2 separate regions of the Homo sapiens genome follow, and region 2 is linked to region 1. Evidence: fine-mapped expression QTL. Tissue or cell type: tibial artery. Region 1 holds a variant in brackets; the other region holds the start of a gene. All regions are shown on one strand. Distances are from middle to middle.

Region 1 (10,573 bases):
CAAATGTAAGGAGAACAGACCCTTTCTAGAACAGCACCTGTAGGAATATGTCGCGAGTAAATATATTCAGACTAGACCGAAAAGTCCTGTATGCAAAGATGTTTATCAGATGCTGTCAATAATAGCAAAATTAAGTAAATTAAACAAATAGATGACAACCCAGATGTCCATTTGTCCCATCAGTAGACACTTGGTTTTGAAGTCAACCGTCCATCTGTACCATGAAATATGATGCCATTAGCTCTAACCAAGGAAAAAGGAGCATGACATAGATGGCCCCAAAAGCATTCTGTAGGACAACGTGATTTCATTTTTGTGGAAACTTCTGCCTCAAGCTACAATCACTGTGCCGGCCGAGGAACACCCTCCCATCTCCTTCCATGCAGCCCTGGTCTAAACTGGAAAAATTCTGCCAACCAAGAGGAATCCTTATTTAGTGGTGTTGTCAACGTGGCTTTTCAATAGCACATTCATTCTCCACTCTCCACTTCAGCCAGGAAAGGGTGGGGGGAAGCGGGGAGAAGAAAAAGAAAAAGCCGAGTGTTTTGGAGACTGAGCTCAACAAGGCAGGTGTGTTGTGTTGGTTCCTTCAAGACCACAGAAGCAAAAGAAGCAGTGAGAGCGGGGATTAAAAGGTGCCAAATATGTGAAGCTCCGTAAACCCCAGCTGCAGAAACCCAGAGGTCAAAGTGCTTAAGGATGCATAAAATGCGGATTTTTCCATAATTATTTAAATATGTGTTAATGAGTGCTCAGAACACAGTCAGAGTATGTCCATTAAAGGATTAAAAATAAAGGGAAGTGGAAAAGGAACAGCTCAAACAGGAGAAAAAGCACTCTTCTGGGGGTCAAAACTTCTCCCAAATTTCTCTTTGGCTCTAGTTCTACCACTCAGAGCAAGTCACCCAGTCTCAGCCGGGCTTCCCCTTCCCATCTGAAAATGAACGGTGGGTGGGATAGATTGTTCAATGCCCTCAGCACAAAACCCCTTGTTCATGAAAACCAGCTCATCTTCTGTATTGAATTGAATGAGGAAATAAGAATTTTCCAAGGCAAGGGAGCTTGCAAGAGGACTGTGAAGTGTCCTAAGCTTTCTCAGGTCTCTAAGCAGAGGAAGGGCGCTGTTTTGTAACCAGCTGACTCCAAAATACAAATGAGCCACTGAGAAAACCCTGAAGAATCTGATGTGGGGGAAGATTTCAAATCCGACCTACTCCATTAACCCCTGTGGTCCTCTCATGCACCCCGCCTGGAAGCCCATCAAAGTGTCAGCTCAGCCTGGAGTCCCCGGTTAAGGAGCGAGGCATTTACACCATTTGCTAGGAGTGCAGGAAATACAGGAGTGACATTTCCATCAGTTTTCTTCCCCAAGCGAGAAAAGAGCGGCAGGGGCGAGAAAGAAAGAAAGCAACCGCGTCCAAGGCTTGGCTGCATCCCAATGCCTTTGACACCTAGGCTTTTATTGGAACTGCTACTTCCAAAATAAAGAAACTAGTGACTTCAGGGTATATTTTGCCTCCGTTTTTGAGGATGTCTTGGGCCTTTCATCTCCTCTGAAGGCGTGTCCCCTAATTATGCCCCTTTCATCCTTGTGTTGCTCAAGCAGAACATGCCAGTCTGCTCTACAGCCATTGATTATGACTGAGGGCTTTCCACGTTCCAGCTGCTGCCGAGAGCCTGGGTATTTGTGAATACCTGAATAAACTCCTTTAATCCAAAAACAAACTCCTCCTGAAAGAAACTGCCTGAAAAGGCCTTTCATAGAGTGTTTCCCAACTCACTGGTTCATGGTTTCTTTGGATTTCACTGTGCTTCCTGAACTAATGGTCTCTGAATGCATTCCCAACTGTGGCTTCCTGGTCTACCGAGGTCCCCAGCACGAGGTCCCTGGCATTAAAGGAGAAGAAGGAAAAAAGTAACACAGCAGATGCTTATAGGAGTTGCCAGGACTGGATGGGTTGAAACTGAAAGGAAATACATGTGGGTGAGAGTGTTACGTTGTTTCGACAATTTTTATAAGAAATGCTTCCCCAGGTAGTGCTTTAAAAACAAAGTTACAATCACACAGGACACACATGTGGGGTGTAGCTTCTGCTAGATGGAAAGCAGATTGCTTGAATTAGCACTGGAAGACCTTAACTACAGAACCTGATGACTCTCTTCTAATTGACAGATTTGCTTTAAGATTCACAACTTGAATTGGAAAAAACATCTGTGTTATTGAGATTACAGTGGGAGCACTAAGAAAGCCCAGAATTGACTTGGGAACTTCCCAATGGCCAGCTGATATGTTCAGATTGGAGCCCTGGACTTGGAGTTGCCAGATTCTAGGGTGAGAAATGGCATGTTCACGTCCTAGCCTTGTAAACCTCAGCTCATTACTTCCCTGCTTTGCCTCTGTATCCTGATCTCCAAAATGAAGGGGCTAGGTGAGACCAGGGGAACTTTCCTCCAACAAATCGAATTCCTCTCACCTGAGCAAGTAGGGAGGGAGGGAGGGAGGCTACCAGAACCCCCACCATGAAGATTCTCACCCTGCCCTCTCCCTGCCTTCCAGGGATCCCTGGCATGGTCTAGTTTGGTTACTATTGCTACGTAACCAATTACCCCAGAAATCAGTGCTATCAAACGATTGCCCTTTTACTTTGTTTACGATTTGGTGGGCTGGGATTTAGAGAGGGATTGACTGGGCAATCATCACTTGGAGTCTCTCAAGAGAGTGCAGCCAGGTGTTGGCTTGGACTGCAGGCAGCTGGAGGCTTGACAGGCCGCATGTGTGTCCAAGGTGTCTTGCTCACGTGGCTGGTGTTGATGCAGGGGCTGTCAGCCAATGCATCCACATGTGGCCTCTCCAGCATGGCGGTCTCAGGGTTGTCAGATTTCTTACTTGGTGGCTGGCTTCCTCCAGAGCAAGAGTTTCCAGAGAACCAGGTGGAAGACATGTGGCCCATGTGACCTAGTCACAGGAGTCACACAGCCTTACTTTCACCACATTCTATCGATGGTCAAAGGGCCACCAAATTCAACCACAGGGAACACAGATCTCCCTCTCAGTAACAGGTGAGGCAAGACCATGTTGTGGGAGAGCCTACAGGCATCAGGGTATGATTGCGGACATCTTTGCAAATCATAGTCCACCTCAGGTTCCAAGAAACACAGTTGGAAAACAACGAGGTTAGACGGTCTCTAACGTCTCTTTCTGTTAGAAAAGCAAAAAACTCTAAAAGGGCAACATTTACTTGTCCAGACTCTTTCTTTTTTAAAGAGCTTTACTCCTTTGGGAGGCCGAGGTGGGCGGATCACGAGGTCAGGAGATTGAGACCATCCTGGCTAACACAGTGAAACCCTGTGTCTACTAAAAATACAAAAAATTAGCCTGGCGCAGTGGCGGGCGCCTGTAGTCCCAGCTACTAGGGAGGCTGAGGCAGGAGAATGGCATGAATCCAGGAGGTGGAGCTTGCAGTGAGTCGAGATCGCGTCACTGCACTCCAGCCTGGGCAAGAGAGCGAGACTCCATCTTAAAATAAATAAATAAATAAATAAATAATAAATAAATAAATTAATTAAATAAATAAATAAATAAAAATAAAGAGCTTTACTGGAGTGTGCAGGCCTCCCTTGTTTTATTATGCATTTAAGTGCTTTACTGTCTGTGTTTCTTACAAACTGAGGGTTTGTGGAGACCTTGCATGGAGCAAGTCTATCAGCGCCATTTTCCCAACAGTACGTGCTTATGTCATGGCTCTGTCACATTTGAGTAATTCTCACAGTATTTCAAACCGTTTCATTATGATTACTTCTGTTATGGTGATCTGCGATCGGTGAGCTTCGTCACTATTGTAATTGTTCTGGGGCACCATGAACCATGCCCCTATAAGACAGTGAACTTAATCAATAAATGGCTTGTGTGTTCTAACTGTATCACTGGCTCTTCCCCCATCTCTCTCCCTATCCTTGGGCCTCTCTATTCACTGCAACATAATAATATTGAAATTAGGTCAAGGAATCATCCTACAGTGGCCTGTAAGTGTTTGAGTGAAAGGAAGAGTCACAGGTCTCACTTTACACCGAGAGCTGAAACGATTAAGCTTAGTGAGGAAGCCATGTCAGAAGCCAAGGTACGCTGAAACTAGGCCTCTTGCACCAAACAGTTGGTCAAGTTGTGCATGCAAAGTAAAAGCTTTTGAAGGAAATTAAAAGTGCTACTCCAGTGAACACATGAATGATAAAAAAGTGAAATAGCCTTACTGCTGATATGGTGAAAGGTTTACGGTCTGAATAAAAGATCAAACTAACTACAACATTGCCTTGAGCCAAAGCCTAATCTGGAGCAAGGCCCTAACTCTCTTCAATTCTGTGAAGGCTGGTGACGTTCAGTGTTTTTTCATGTGCTTATTTACCATCGGTGTAATCTCTTCAGTGAAATGTTTCGTCATGTCTTTTGCCTAATTGGATCGTTTGGTTTAACTGAGTCTTGACAGTTCTTTATATATTCTGGATACTAGTCCTTTTTCAGATATGTTGTTTGCAAATATTTTCTCTCACTCTGTGGATCTTCTTTTTATCCTTAGAAAAGTATCTTTCAAGAGCAAAAGTTTTTAATTCTGATGCAGTTGAATTTATCAATCTTTTTCTTTTGTGGATTGTGCTATTGGTGTTAAGTCTTAAGACCTTTTTGCCTAGGCCTATATTCCTAAGACATTTTTCCCGAAAGTTTCATAGTTTTGTATTTTACATTTAAGTTCATTATACATTTTGAATTGATTTTTGTATAAGATGTGAACCTTACATAGATGTTGATTTTATTGCCTATGTGCTATTCTCTGGCACTGTTTGTTGAAAAGTCTCTTTTTTTCTCCATTGAATTGCATCTTTGTTAAAAATCAGTTGGGCATATTGGTGTGGTTCTATTTCTGAGTCTCTATTCTGTTCCACTGACATATGTCTATCCTTCCACCATTATCACTGCCTTCTTGATTACTGTAGCTATGTAGTCACCCTTGACATTGGGGAGACTGATTCTTCTCACTTTATTCTTCTTTTTTTCAAAATTATTTGAACTTACCTAGTTTCTTTCCATTTTCAAATAAATTTTAGAATAACCCTGTCCATCTGTTAAAAAATTCTGCCGTTATTTTGATATTAATTGCATTAAACTTGTATATCAATTTGAAGAGAATTGACCTCTTTACTATGTTGAGTCTTTCAATCCCTGAATGCAGTATATCACTCCATTTATTAAGACCTTCTTTGATTTCCTTCATCAACATTGTATATTTTTCAGCATACAAGGTATGTGTTTTGTTACGTTTACTACATCGTTTGAGCAATTATAAGTGGAATTGTATTTTTAATTTTGGTGTTTATTATTCTGGCTAGAACCTATAGCACTACACTGAATAAGAGTAGGGAGAGTGGACATTCTTGCTGTGTTCTCAATCTTAGGGGGAAAACATTTAGTCTTCCACAACTAAGTATAATGTTATCTGTAGCTTTTTGTAGTTGCATTTTGTCAAGTCAGGAAGTTTCTCCCCTATTTCTATTTTTCTGAGCTTTTTTTAAAATCACAAACGGATGTTGAATTTTATCAATGCTGTTTTTTGCATTGATTAATGTGAATATGTGATTTTTCTTCTTTAACTTGTCAGTAGGGTGGATTATGTTCAATACTCATAATTTTTGAGTATTGAAACATGCCTGCATCCTTGGAATTAATCCTACTTGGTTATGGTGTATAATTCTTCTTATATATTACTGAATTCTGTTTGCCGATATATACTCAAGAATGTTTGCCTCTACATTCACGGGGAATATTAGACTAAAATTTTATTGCCTTTGTCTGGTTTCTGTATTAGTGTAATACTAGCTTCACAGAATGAACTGCAAA[G/C]TATCCCCATCTCATGTATTTCTCAGAAGAGACTGTATAAAATTGGTGTTAATTCTTGTTTAAACATTTGGTAGAATTCTCCAGTAAAGCCATATGAACAAGATTTCTTTTGTGGTAATTTAAAAATTATTAATTTAATTTTTAAAGTACTTATAGGACTATTGAAATTATCTATTTCATACTGGGTGAGTTGTGACTGTGTTTTTCAAAATGAGGGGGATGTCCTTCTATTCCTTGTTTTCTCAGACTTTTTTAAATTAGGAATGAATGTTGGGTTTTGTCAGATGCTTTTCCTGCCACTATTAGATTATCATGATTTTCTTTTTTCTCTCTTTTCTTTTTTCTTTTCTTTTCTTTTCTTTTCTTTCTTTCTTTTTTCTTTCATGGAGTGTCACTCTGTCGCCCAGGCTGGAGTGCAGTGGAACAATCTCGGTTCACTGCAACCTCCGCCTCCCTAGTTCAAGTGATTCTTCTGCTCAGCCTCCCAAGTAGCTGGGATTACAGGCATGTGCCACCACGCCCAGCTAATTTTTGTATTTTTAGTAGAGACAGGGTTTCACCATGTTGGCCAGGCTGGTCTCAAACTCCTGACCTCAAGTGATCCGCCTGCCTCGGCCTCCCAAAGTGCTGGGATTCAGGCATGAGCCACCGCACCCAGCCATGATTTTCTTGTTTAGTTTGTCACGATGATGAATTACATTGATTGATTTTCAAATAAACTAATCTTGCATTCTTGGGACTCACTTACATGTGATGCATTATCCTTTGTTGGGTTTGATTTCCTAAAATTTTATTTAGAATTGTTGCTTCTTTGTTCATGAGGAATATGGCCCTGTGGTTTTCTTGTCTTGTAATTGCTTTGTCTGACTTTGGTATTAGGATAATGCTGACCTCATTAAATGAATGAGAAAGTGCTCTCCCCTTTTTGGTTTTCTGGAAAAGTTTATGTAAACTTGGAATCGTTAGTCTCCTTAAAGCCTGGGTAGAATTCATCAGTGAAGCCATATGGACCTGGAGTGTTCTTGGTGAGAAGGTTTCTAACTACAAATATAGTTACTTTCATAGATAGGACTGTTCAGGTTATCCATTTTTTCATGAGTTAACTTAGTAGTTTGTGCCTTTCAAGCAATTTGTCCACTTTCCCCAAGTTGTCTGTAAGATCTGCAGTGATGTCAAGAATCTCGGGCCGGGCGCGGTGGCTCACGCCTGTAATCCCAGCACTTTGGGAGGCCGAGGCGGGCGGATCACGAGGTCAGGAGATCGAGACCATCCCGGCTAAAACGGTGAAACCCCGTCTCTACTAAAAATACAAAAAATTAGCCGGGCGTAGTGGCGGGCGCCTGTAGTCCCAGCTACTTGGGAGGCTGAGGCAGGAGAATGGCATGAACCCGGGAGGCGGAGCTTGCAGTGAGCCGAGATCCCGCCACTGCACTCCAGCCTGGGCGACAGAGCGAGACTCCGTCTCAAAAAAAAAAAAAAAAAAAAAAAAAGAATCTCATCCCTGGCCAGGCTTGGTGGCTCATGCCTGTAATCCCAGCACTTAGGGAGGCCGAGGCGGGCGGATCACAAGGTCAGGAGATCGAGACCATCCTGGCCAACATGGTGAAACCCTGTGTCTACTAAAAATACAAAAAATTAGCTGGGCATGGTGGCATGTGCCTTTAGTCCCAGCTACTTGGGAGGCTGAGGTCAGAGAATCGCTTGAACCTGGGAGGCGGAGGTTGCAGTGAGTCGAGATCACGCCACTGCACTCCACCCTGGCGATGGAGCGAGACTCCGTTAAAAAAAAAAAGAAAAGAAAAGAAAAAAAAACTCTTCCCTAATAATTGGTAATTTGTGCCTTTTCTCCCCTTTCCTGATCAACCTGGTTAGATGTTTATCCATTGTATTGATCTTCTCAAAGAAGCAACTTTTGGGTTCATTGTTTTTTTGTTTGTTTGTTTGTTTTTGTTTTGTTTTTTGAGAGGGAGTCTCACTCTGTTGCCTAGGCTGGAGTGCAATGGTGCGACCTTAGCTCACTGCAATCTCTGCTTCCCCGGTTCAAGCGATTCTCCTTCCCCAGCCTCCCAAGTAGCTGGAATTACAGGTGCCTGCCACCACGCCCGGCTATTTTGTTTGTTTGTTTGTTTTTGTATTTTTAGTAGAGACAGGCTTTCACCACGTTGGCCAGGCTGGTCTCAAACTCCTGACCTCAAGCGATCCGCCTGCCTCAGCCTCCCAAAGTGCTGGGATTACAGGAGTGAGCCACTACACCTGGCCCATTGGTTTTGTCTAGTGTGTTCTTGGTCAGAATCTCCCTGGAAACAAAGGACACTCGCTCTTCCTCCTTTCCTCTTGTCTAAGGAATTCTCTAAGAGAACTAGCTCACTTGAACCTTGTCGAAGGCTAACCTTCAAAATAAATCCACCTACCAACTCTTGTTTTTCTCAAAACTCTCAGCCAAGTACCACAGTTTCATGTCACAAATAATTTTTTCGAAGGTGCAGCATTCTGATCACATTCTGCAGAGAAAACGGATGTGTAGCTTTTGAAATATTCTGCCCCTTACAGAAAAGCTTCAGTGACAGAGATGTGATAATATGGGATGTCCATTTAGTGACAGGGATATTCTTGAGCCGGCTCTGGTTTTTGCTAACATGTGACCTGGAGCAAGTGACTAACAATCTCTAAGCCTCAGTTTTCTTCTCTCCAAAATGGGAATAATAATGGGGTTGTTGAAAGACCCACTTTGATGATGAATGCAAAACCTCAGTGCAGAATCTGGATGTGGTAAGCATTCCATTAGCAGTGGCTATTAAAATATGATAGCAAGGGTTATGGTCTGGGATTCCACTCCCTTTACTACTGGAAAGGAAGGATTTATGGTCTTCCTTTTCTTCTGTTGATGTTGGAGCCAACATTTATTGGTTGTAAATGTTAAAAATATAAACCTGTGGTGGAAATCCACGGACTGTGCATTTCATCCCATTATGGACTAGTCTATGGTCACACCTGGTCAAGCACCAAAGTTTATATTTCCAACACCCAAAATACACTTTAGTTATAACAAATATTTCTTCAGGAAGTTTGACAACTCTGCAGCCATGTCTCAGGAAGAATATGGATCCCGGGAATTTGCCCAAACTGGCCTTCCTGGGTGTGCAGTTGTATTCTCATAGCTGGGGAGGACCGGCCCAGGGGGCGGGGGTCCAGCAGGCCCAGTTGTGGTGAGGAGGCCTCTGAGGCCATGCCAGCTGGCCCGCTCCATGAAAGAGCATCTCACTGCCTCTCAGGGAAGCAGGTGGACGTGAAGCCCTGCTGGAGACGGGGAGAGTGGGGGGTGTGAGAAGCTGTGGGAAGGGGAGGGCTGATGAGCATGATATGGGGTGGGGCCGAGCTGGGGAGAATGTAAAACCCATAGCACCTTCTGTGACCTTCCTGCCATGGAGAGGGGCAGCCCCACCCCTACCCCACTGTACAGGGCGAGGCTCTGCAGCTGCATCCTGAGTGGGGCATGACAGACATGCTGCTGTGTGACCTCCCAGGTGGGCTAGGAGAGGCCAGGCCACCTCTGCCCAAGTTTCTTGGGACACTCACTCTGGGAGCCTCCCACTGCCACAATAGACATCCAATCACCCTATGGCATATATATATATATACACACACACACACACACACACACACACACACATATATACACACACACACACACATACACACACACATATATATACACATATATATACACACATATATATATACACACATATATATACATATAGAGAGAGAGAGAGAAAGAGAGAGAGAGAAACAGAGACACAGAGAGAGAAACAGAAATGGAGAGAGAGACAAAAAGAGATAGAGAAAGGGACAAGAAAGATGGACGGAGAGAGAAAAAAAGATGGAGAGAGAGAAAGAGAAATGGAGAGAGACACACAGAGAGATGTAGAGAGAGAGACAAACACAGAGAGAGAAAGAGGCAGACAGAGATGGAGAGAGAGACAAAGAAAGATAGAGAGAGGGACAAGAGAGAAATGGAGGGAGACACAGAAAGATGGAGAGAGAAACAGAGAGATGTGGAGGGAGAGACAGAAACACACAGAGAGAGAACGAGGCAGGGAGAGATGAAGAGAGAGACAGAGAGATGGAGAGAGAGACATAGAGAGAGGGACAAGAGAGAAATGGAGGGAGACACAGAAAGACGAAGAGAGAGGCAAAGAGAGATGTGGAGGGAGGAAGAGACAGGTAGGGAGAGGCAGATGGAGAGGTGGAGAGAGGGAGGAAGAGGGAGAGGTGGAGACAGGTGGGGAGAGGAAGATGGAGAGAGAACCTCCAGCAGCTGCAACACCGGCCATTTTGGGTCTTCCCAGCTGGGCTCCAGCCTTGTGAGGGAAGAACCCGAGAGATGCCCCAGCCTGGCACGTCTCACTGCCCTGGCCTGAGGACCCTGAGGGAGAAGTGCTGGCTGAGTCCAGTCAACCCCAAGACTTATGAACAAAATCAAAGAAGGCTGTGGATTTTCTTACCACGTGGGGGACAGAGGGAGCCAGTTGTCACCCAGTGAGAGGGAGCTGGAATGTAAGCCATGGCCTGGCCGGAGCTGCTTAATCTCTCTGGGTATCTGGGTCTCCATCAGTCAAATCGGAGTCATGGTGCAGATTTCTGAGAGCTGCCGTGAGAATCCAGTCAAATAGCAAGCGCAGGGTC
Region 2 (10,573 bases), 32 kb before region 1:
GGCCCAAGGCCAGGGAAAGTAAATGCATTTCTTCCCAGCTATGTGTAAAAGAGGTTTAGGGTTTGGGATCTTTGTATGCAACAGGCACCGCCTCGTTTCTTTTCATAAGTAGCCTTGGCCACCTCATTATTAAATGGGAGAGGATAAGATAGTGGTACCCATGTTGTGGGGCTGCATGGAGGCTGAGTGAGCATAGTGAGAATTTGGACATGAAATGCTGAGCACGGTGTTGGGCACATGCTGCTGTCCATCACCTGTTCACACTCATCATCTTCACTATCACTTAGCACCCCCAGCACACACACCCCTACCTACAAGCCCTGTTGTAATCCCTGCTTTCAGATGAGGAAACTGAGGCTCAGGGTGGCACAGCTTTTCAGCAGATGGAACAGAGCCTTAGCCCTCCAGGCAGTCTGACGTTACACCCAGAACCTTAATCTCTGCCTTAGTCCAGCGTGATGGGGCTGAGGGTGCTGTGCTGAGACTACAGAGCCCCAGGTTCAAGTTCCAGCCTTAGACAGCCTTGAGCAACTCACCTTACCCACCACCCCATGCCTCAGTTTCCTCGTGCATAAAATTGGGAGCTCTTTTAGGCAATGTTAAGACTTCTCCTAGCTCTAACAATACGCAAGCCCAAAGAGGGCTGTGCACATTATGGCCTTTGTTTTCCAGATTCGAATGTGCCCCCCAGATCTCCACGCCGTGCAATTTCTCGGACAAACCAACTCACGTCTTCTTATTGGTCCCATGCACCCGTGGGATCAGCAGATGTAACATTCTGACATCACACTTAGAAAACTTCCCCCATCTGGATTTCTGCAACCCACAGGGAGTCATTTGCCAAACATATGTTTTACAAAACATGGGCCCACTGCACTCTGACTGGTTGTGGAGTCGATACAACCCACCTTTTCCCCAAGCACATGACTCTGGCCCATGCATGCTGTCTGGCTGGGGAGAGAGATGCAAGACTACTCATGTCAGGAGCGCAGGGTGGCAGGAAACGTGCAAGGTCACACATTGCTAAAAATGTAGGCGAGTAACGTGGTGGTAACAGACACACAACGGGGGTCAGTGTACAGTGGAGAAGAATTCTAGTGTCAGGCCAACTATTGCTGTCAGGAAGAGCATTGAGAAGCGTTTCCACATATCACCGCTCACTTTTCCAGATGACATTCAAGAGAGGAAGAGGCAGCGGACATCACTGGCCAGTGAAGTTAGGAGGCTTCGGAGGCTCCAGAGTCATGACAGATGTTTTGAACCTTGTAGCCAAACCCCTCCACGCAGAAGTTAAAATGCCCACTTTCTCTGGAGCACAACTTTTTAAAAAATTGTTTTTTTTTTATATTGTAGTAAAATATACGTAACAAAATTTACCACAATAACCACTTTCAAGCGTGTAGTTCTGTGGTGTTGACTGTATTCATACTATTGTACAACCATCACCACCATCCACCTCCAGAACTTTTTCATCTTCCTAAGCTGAAACGCTGTCCCCACTAAATTATAACTCCCCATCTCCACCCCATAAGTCCCTGGCAATCACCCTTCTACTATCTTTTTCTTTTTGTTTTTCTTTTTTTTTTTTTTTTTTTTTTGAGATGAAGTTTTACTCTTGTTGCCCAGGCTGGAGTGCAATGGCACGATCTTGGCTCACTGCAACCTCTGCCTCCTGGGTTCAAACAGTTCTCCTGTCTCAGCCTCCTGAGTAACTGGGATGACTGGCGCATGCCACCACGCCCAGCTAATTTTTGTATTTTTAATAGAGACGAGGTTTCATCATGTTGGCCTGGCTGGTCTCAAACTTCTGACCACAGGAGATCCACCTGCCTCGGCCTCCCAAAGGGCTGGGATTACAGGCGTGAGCCGCTGCGTCCGGTGCCTTCTACTTTCCGTCTCTATGATTCTGCCTACTCTAGGTGCTTTATCAAAGTGGAATCACACAGTGTTTGTCTTTGGTGACTGTCTCTTTTGCAGAATGTCCCCAAGCTTCATCCATGTTGTAGCAGGTGCCCACCCTTCATTCCTTGTTAAAGCTGAATAATCCTCCATTACTTGGATGCACCATTTTCTTTCTTCATTCATTCACTGATGGACACGTGGGTTGCTTCCACCTTTTGGCTATTGTCAATAATGCTGCAGCGATTCCCAGGCTGGCTGAGTAATTGGTAGTCTACAAAGCTGCTTGGCACAGCGTCCCCAATCTATAGAGAGTAGTTGTGGGTTCAAAGAAAACCCACAAGACTTTAGAGCCAAAATACATCTGGTTTCCAATGTTTGACTGGCCAGCTGCAACTTTAGGCAAATTTAATCCTCCTGAGCCTCACGCTGCTCATCACCAAACTGGGAATTACAGTAGACAGCACTGGTCGCTGTCCCAGCATCCACACTACCTCCTACATCCTAAGCGAATTCTGATTTCTTTTTTCAACTTTCTTCCACGCCCAGGTGATCTCAAGGGGCTGAGACATTCATAGTTCCAGGGATGGGGCAAGTCCCGCCCCCTTGGCAATGATTGGTTCAGACACCCAGGCTTCAGCTAATCGGTTTCTAGCAGTGCCTTAGCAACTGTTGCTAGTGTTAAGCCCTTGATCTGAGTGGCCCAATCAGGTAGAGGATGGGCTTTTATTCCAAGTTGGAGAAATGACGCTCCTCGGAGCTAGGAAATGAACAAGAGTTTCTGCAGCTGCTGATGCTGCCACCATCCCGCAACAACGAGGGAAAGAGCATGAGAACGAAGCCCAGGCACAGAAGAAAGGCAGCCATAAAAGTGTCAGAAAAACGGAGCCGGAGCCTGATTATCCTCCTCATCTTGGTACACACTCACACTCACACACTCCCTATGTCTGCGGACTGACAGTCAGAATATTCAAGCAAAACAGATCTCCTTAAATGGCAGTGACCTTACCTGAAATTTAACAGGCCTGAATTTACCGGTCTAAGGTCAACCAGGAAGGCTGTGTGCCTTCAAGCCCACCACTCAAAGACGCCAACCAATTCACCTGTCTCCTGTATGATTCTGGGTTCACACACATGGGTGCACAGACTCCCCCGAACACACACACACACACACACACACACACACGCACCTGCACGCATGCACACACACAATTAGGTTCAGAAATTAAACCTCAAAGTAATAGTAGGCCTCAATTATCCTACATAGCTGTGAAACAGATAGCCTGTTAGCTAGTCACTGGAGTACTGCTTGAAATAGAGATTTATTGCACAAAAAGCAGCACATACAAAAGTTTCTATGATCAGTATTACGGCTGATTGTGAAATAAGACATCATTGGAAGTGCACCAAAAATGAATAATGCAGGGACTGAACAGAGAAGCTGAGTGAAGAGAAGCCAGATAAAGAAGGAACACATATTTTTTCAGCCCACAGCTTCACCCATTTTCAGCGAAGCAAGGATTTCCCTTAGGGTGAAGGGAGAATCCTAGGTCTTTCTATTCCATTTCCGGGCATGACCAGACACCAAAATCATGACAGAGTAAGCTTGAAAAGAAAGACTTCGTGAAGACTGTTGGTCAAGACACAACCGGGGAACAGAAACATCTCGGCATGTACAGGAGAAGGAGTTTAATCCAGGAAGGAGATTGTGGCAGGTGGAGGGTCAGAAAAGCCACTGCAGTGTCAAACCACACACAGCGAATTATTCATTCAGATCTCATGACAAGAAAACTTGGTGTCTTTGTCTACCTGGGCTGCTGTAACAAAATATCATCCACTGGGCAGCCCATGCACAACAGAGATTTATCTCTGACGGTTCTGGAGGCTGGGGTGTCCAAGATCAAGGCCCTGGCCACTTCAGTGTCTGGTGAAGGTCACTTCCTGACTCATAGATGGCACCTTCTCGAGAGTCCATATATGCTGGAAGGGGCAAGGGGCCTCTCTGGGGCGTTTTTTATTATTTTATTTTTATTTATTTAATTTTTTGAGATGGGGTTTCAGTCTTATTGCCCTGGTTGGAGTGCAATGGCATGGTCTCCACTCACTGCAATCTCTGCCTCCCGGGTTCAAGCGATTTTCCTGCCTCCGCCTCCCAAGTAGCTGGGATTACAGGCGCCCGCCACCATGCCCGGCTCATTTCTGGATTTTTAGTAGAGATGGGGTTTCATCATGTTGGTCAGACTGGTCTAAAACTCCTGACCTCAGGTGATCCGCCCACATTGGCTTCCCAAAGTGCTGGGATTACAGGTGTGAGCCACCGTGCCCGGGCTTGGGGCTCTTTCATAAGGGCACTATTCCCATGCATGAGGGTTCTACCTCACAAACCACTCACCTCCCGAAGACCTCACCTTTTGATAGCATCACATTGTAGGTGAGAATTTCAATATTCAAATTTGAGGGAGACACACACATTTGGACCATAGCACACAGTTGGGTCATAAAGCCAGGGTTCCGAGGCAAGTCTGAGGTCATCAGCCAAGGGTGTCTGCATCGGACAACACTCAACTCGGGATTGGCACCCAGCCAGTGCCCTACACTATACAAGATGCCACTGTAGGGACAGGGATGACCTCTAGCAAGGTGACCCTCAGTGGGCCAGAGGGGGCTTCTGAAGAGAATTTCTCTAGCTTCTTGGTGTTTCCTGCCTGCTACTTTCAAACAAGGGTCCCATTTTTAATGTTTTCCCAGTAATACCTTATGAATGTTATTGCAAAGGTAAAGGAAATTATATTTTTGCTCTTATTGTTGTTCACTCTACTCCCATTTAGCAATTAACATTGAAAGGTAAGAAAACCAAGAGAAAGAGAGAGATTGCAATGTGGATATAGACGCAGATGTATAGAAATATATACATAGTAGAAATAAAAAAGGGTTGGCTATGGAGAAGGATACACAGATAGAGATAGCAAGACAGTTGGATAGACAGACAGGTTTTTTTTTTTTCTTAATAATAGGAACCAGAGGATGATCAGGAGGGTGAGGAAAAGAAAAAGATGAAAGCCCTGTCTAAGATGCCCACAAGTTCTCTAGTTTGCATTTGTTCCCTTGGTGAGCAGAAGGGTGCAAGTCCTCTCTTACTGTGATGTGAGGAACCTATATCATCCCAGGGCACAAGAGGGTGAAGTTGGCCATCTGTGCCCTTCTCTGCCTTGTACCCTAGGCACGCCCCTCCTGTAGATCCCAGTTTCTCTTTCTGCCAAAAAGGGGGCAGACCTGGTGAGTAGCTAAAGTTCCTTCCGGCCTGAAGGCCCCTCAAAGGTTTTCTCCTGTGCCTTCCCCACAGCCCGGGTCTGCACTCTACTGGGATTTGCTGGGCTAGATTCTCAGAGGAGCTCAACATTGATTGAGTTCCTCGCTCCACGTTAAATCTTTGGAAAATTAACTAAAGATCTCCTAGTAAGATGCTTGTAACTTACTACATAAGGTGAAATAGTGACTTTACAGTACAAAAACTATAACCCAAGTATTACCACCAGCAGCGGGCTAAATCAACACCACAGGCCCCGTGATCAATATATGTGATGAGGACATTACATCCTGGTGTTGTTGCCCCAAGTCTTGACGTGAATCTGACCACAAGGACAATTCGGACAACCTGAAATGGTGACGCATTCTACAAAATAAACATCAATGTCATGAAAGACAAAGACTCAAGATTTTCTGCTTAATGGAGACTAAAGAGATGCGACAACAGAATGCCAGGCATGATCTTGGATATTCTTTTGGCTCAAACAGTCTTAGGACAATTGAAAAAACGTGAATGAGGTCTGTAGCTAATAGAATTGTGTCAATGCCACATCCTTGGTTTTGTTAATTGCATTGTGGTTACAGAAGAGAATCCCTTTGTTTTCAGGAAATGCACACAGCAGTATTTAATAGTAAAGGCACATCTTGTCTGCAACTTCCTCTCTGTGTGTGTGTGTGTGTGTGTGTGAGAGAGAGAGAGAGAGAGAGATGCAACAAATATGGTAAATATTAATTTTGGGGACTCTGGGTGAAGGGTATCTTGAGATTTTTGTGCTCCTCTTCTGCACATCTGAAATCATGTCAAAAAATAAAAAAGGTGTGCACTCTGCAAGGGATACCCAGATACCCATGCAGAAGAGAGAACTGATTCAAGAGATGAACCCAGGTGGGAGCCACGATGATGCCCACTGGGGAATGAGCCTGTAAATCCAGGAGAGGCTGCACCTGCAGCCCATTCCTCCAGGGTGGTTCTCCTAGACCTGCTTCAAGTGTCATGGTTTAAATTCTCAGGCACCCCTTGGGCCATACTGACATTTCTATTGGCTTTGGGCTAGGAGGAGCTAATATGCCTTGCACATGATGATAGCTTGGAGAATGTAAAAATGCTGAGCTGTTATCACACCTAATGACATGATACCTGCAAAGACGTAGTGTGTGCATGGAACAGCGTAATGGAGTCCTACAGCCTTAAGCCAGGATTTCATGTGTGATACACAGTAGTCATGGCTGAAATCTTTCTCCAGTGTGGCTGCTCCCTCCTCATTGAACACAAAGCAAGTTATACAATTCAGTTTTAGCAAATGTCTTGTGAGATGCGCTAGCACAATCTTAAAGATCATGTGTGGGTAAAAAGAACAACCTCCACCCATACCAAGCATTTTCAGTGCCAGGCCCTACCTGAAACACAACCGTGATCTCCATTTGAGCCAGGAAAACCCGAACCATGGGGAGCCGCAGAGCCCGCCCCCCACCCAGTGACTCTCCGGTGTGTCAGTGCCAGGGTCTGAAGGTACTGAGGCTTTGCAGGCATCATCTCAAGCCAGCAGGGTCTGAAGCTACTGAGGATCTGCCAGCAACATCTCAAGACGGCATGGTAGCTCCTTCCCAGCACGCCACGCTGCCCTGCACCCACTGCTAGCTTCTGTCTATACTGCACTTGGCACTGAGAGCAATCCGATCAGAGGCAGCATGCGATTGCTTTGTTCCATTTTCCCAAGGCCCACTCACAGGGCCTGTAGGTACCTGCACGGTCCAGGTCCAGGTCCGTCATTGTTCAATCGAGCCACCATGAATTGGAACAACTGCATCTTTCAATCGCGTCCTCCAATTTGCCCAGAGCCATCCGAGCACAGATTCAGAACTGGATCTTTGCCTCTCTCAACAAAGTACACTAGGGGACTGAAGCATCCAACTCAAGTGTAGTGTTTTAAATAAGGAAGAAGAACTTAAATTCACCCACTGACCCATTTCCACAATCGTCAAAGTCACATGGCTTTATCGGTATTGTCATTTCTGTGTGAAACTTAGCTCTTACATGCTTAAAAAATAAGAATAATTGTTCAGATATGCTTGGGAACCAAAGAAAGAACAGAACTACTGTTTTCCCCACATTGTCAAACTCAAACAAACACCTGTGACAGATGAGCACCGCCTACTGAGGTCGCAGTTCACCTTTCTGCACAAGAGCTGGTGGCTTTGTTCTCTGTCTGGAAGGACTTTCTGTCTCCCTGTGCTGCGTGTCCTCTGGCCTCTTGGGCCCATCCTTCGACGCCAAACTCAAGGGACATATTCAGCCTTCATCTTTGGAGGGATGCCCAGGGACAGATGTGTCCACGGGACCCCCAGCACACAGACTGACCTTTCGGGGCTTACCCTTCAAAGGTGTCGTGTCATTTCCCTGTGCCCTGACCTCCACGCTGAGTTCCCTCTTTCCTTACTGGCCGTGGCATTGCATGGGTATAAGTGATTGTATGTAAGACAGTTATAGGATTTGTTTTCTGATAATCCCTGAGTTTTATATTTCTGCCAAAAGTTATAAGTGAGCAATCTTATATATACATCTGCCAGCTCAAATGGACACAATGTAGGCACAGGCATCTTGTGTTGAGAGGCATAATGGGGCCATCCCCGGGGTCTGCAGGGAAGCAGGCAGCAATTGATGAGGGGCATTCGTCCTGGGACGAAGGAAGGCGAGAAGCAGCCAGTATTTCCTGTTCTTGATACAATGTTACCCTGCCGCAAGGGTGGAAAATCCCACGTTTAAACCTGAAACTGATTGTTCCTGGCCAGCAGCCACTCCCACATCCCCAAACCAGGGGGGTGACTTACAGCAGTGCAGTGACCTGCCTGAATCACTCGAGCTCTTGCTGAAACGCAGGTTCTGAACCAGGGCCTCCAGGGCGGGGCCTGAGACTCTCCATTTATAACCAGCTCCCGGGTGATGTCTGAGGACCACGCCTTGGGTAGTGAGGACCTAGAGTGAGTGAATGAAGAGAACTTACACAACAGCCCAGCACATTCTAATGAGAAAGGTGACACCACCTACCCCTCTATCATTCACGAGCTTAGGACAGCTGGGTACCTCGTGGCCATCCTCAGTCAGCCCCACCTCTCAGGCCAGGGCCTGCTGTCTTTGATGAAACCCCTCTGTCCCTCCCACGCCTTTGCGCCTGTTATTCTCCAGCCCACCCTAAGTCCCCCATGAGGTGCTGGATGTCTCAGGCTTGGATCTCCTCATCACTGCCTCTCTTCTTCCTCAGTACCCTGGGAGCTGCCCACGTGGGCTCTCAGTGGCCCCTGCTCTCTGGCTTCTGGCAGGGGATCGCCCAGGCAAGGCAGGCGGCGACATCCCCCTCCTCAAATGGCACTTGTGTCTCCCGGAGAACTGTGAAGTGCAGGAGGCAGGGGGCCTGGGGAAGGGCCAGTGCCTGGTGAAGGAGGGCCGCTGCTATTATTTCTTAGAACTTTTTGTTACTTTTATTAAATCTGGAGGTTCCAGCTCAGTTCCCTCCTCCATGAAGCCCTCCTGGCTTAGCTCGACCTCCCTTAGTATCTTTCTCCTTTGAATGCACTCAGGGAATAACTTAGGCCCTTATTTTGAGCCATCTTCCTTCTTTTTGCTTAGTTGCCTCCAAGGCTCAGTATGGTCCCCTCGACACGACAAGAAGCTTCGATTCACTCACAGTAAACTTTTGCCAATGAGGAAAACCACAAAACACACCTGAAACTCAAATAACTCAAAAATGGTTTGAAAACAGTCTGTTTCTCTACGTCTCTCCCAGTGTTGGTAATACGTGTTTGGGGAAAGTGTCTAAAAATAATGAAATACTTTTTAAAATCTACTTTTAAAAGAAGCTTTATCGAGATATAACTCAAGTACCACACAATTCACCCATTTAAAGTGGACAATTCAGTGGGTTTTAGTATATTCACAGAACTGGACAACCCTCAACACAGTCCATTTTGGAACATTTTTATCAATTCAGAAAGAATCTGTGTACCTGTTAACAGTCACCCTTCCTCATCCTGCTGTTTTGAGCCTGTATTTAAAACACGAGGCAGGAAAAGACCATTTTACCGATGTAAAGCCCAGGACATATTTTTTGTTTACATTGTCTTTGAGGCTTATCCCTTTTTAAAAATTCACTGGCTAAGTTTCAGGAGAATCAAATCAATGGCATGAAAACCTACCTGTTTTGCAGAACATCCCAGGTCACCTGCCTCCTTGCACACCTGAGGGTTGAAGGAGGCCATGGCACCGTGGCATCCGCCACCCCATCTGGCTTTCCCACGCCTCTGGCCTCACCCCTGTCGGAGGTGAGAGCTGGTTCCTGCCAGTCTAGAAGGAGCTTTAAGCTCTGCCTCCTATGTTGTAACAGAGCCCGGGAAGGAAGCTTCCACTTGTGAGCCAACTGCAGGCTTGACGGACTCAAAAGGGTGGTGTGGAAACAAAGAAAACACTGTATGTTGAAGATGGTCAAGACAATCACAATGCTGCCATTTATTGAATATTTGCAGAGTGTCTGGCATACTGCTAAGAACATTACATGCATATCTGGTTTAATCCTCACGACGACCTTCGGAGGTGGATCTTATTAGTTTGCCTGAGTTTACTGCTAAGGAAGCTTAAAGGAAGAGCTCTAGTAACTGCCTGGAGGGTCTTCCCTGATCTTCCCATCAGTCTAATGATCTGTTTGGATAGAAGGAGGGATCAGTCTGAACTGGATGGCCTTCTGAAGTCTTCAAAGCTCTCAAATCTGAGAATTCTGAATTCTACAAAATCTGAATCATAGGACGCCCTTTGAATAAAAGCGCTGGATCCTTTTAACCCCAAAAAGAAGGGAGATGTGCATGTGGGGGGTGTGGAGAGAGCCTATTTTTAATGTAAGTCAGGAATGTCTGCTATGTGTGGATGACATGAGGGCTCTCAACCTCTGGGAGCCTGTCCCCAGGTCAGCCTTGGTGAGTCTGGCCCCAGCTATGGGTGCCTACCTGGGTTTTCACCTGTTCTGAGGTTTACTGTCCCCCACCTGCAAGCATGAGGCCCAGAAGCTGCCATCAGCCTTTGGTCTCTGGTACAGGCCCTTAGCTGTGAACTCACATTATTAATGTTAAAGACATTGATGTGACTAGCAGTGGTGTCCCATGTGACCATTCAAGATTCCCAGTGGCTGGAGACAGGACTCCAGATGTGGCAAGGGTGACAGGAACCCCTTTCTTCACTTTTAAATGGAGTGAGCCAATAGCAGAGGCATGGAGTCAACCTAGGTGCCCATCAGTGGCGGACTGGATGAGGAAAAGTGGTCCATACATGCCATGGAATACTACATAGCCATGAAAAATAATGAAATCATGTCATTTGCACATC

Evidence for each region. PIP is the estimated chance that this variant, and not a neighbour inherited with it, causes the effect. A credible set is the group of variants that fine-mapping cannot tell apart.
Region 2: it holds the start of LINC02188, and the variant in region 1 is the best candidate, but not a certain one, in a credible set for the expression of LINC02188 in tibial artery (GTEx, PIP 0.59).

What each region holds. Positions count from the first base shown.
Region 1 is chr16:86,683,394-86,693,966 of GRCh38, reverse strand. No RefSeq gene overlaps it. Among named protein-coding and RNA genes, the nearest start is that of LINC02189, 33 kb to the left of the region's middle. The variant G/C (reference allele first, on the strand shown) is at 5,888.
Region 2 is chr16:86,715,866-86,726,438 of GRCh38, reverse strand. LINC02188 (long intergenic non-protein coding RNA 2188) reads right to left here and starts at 4,348. Exons shown (of 3, transcript NR_135183.1): 1 at 4,308-4,348. LINC02189 (long intergenic non-protein coding RNA 2189) reads left to right here and starts at 4,480. Exons shown (of 2, transcript NR_135181.1): 1 at 4,480-4,674; 2 at 5,436-5,755.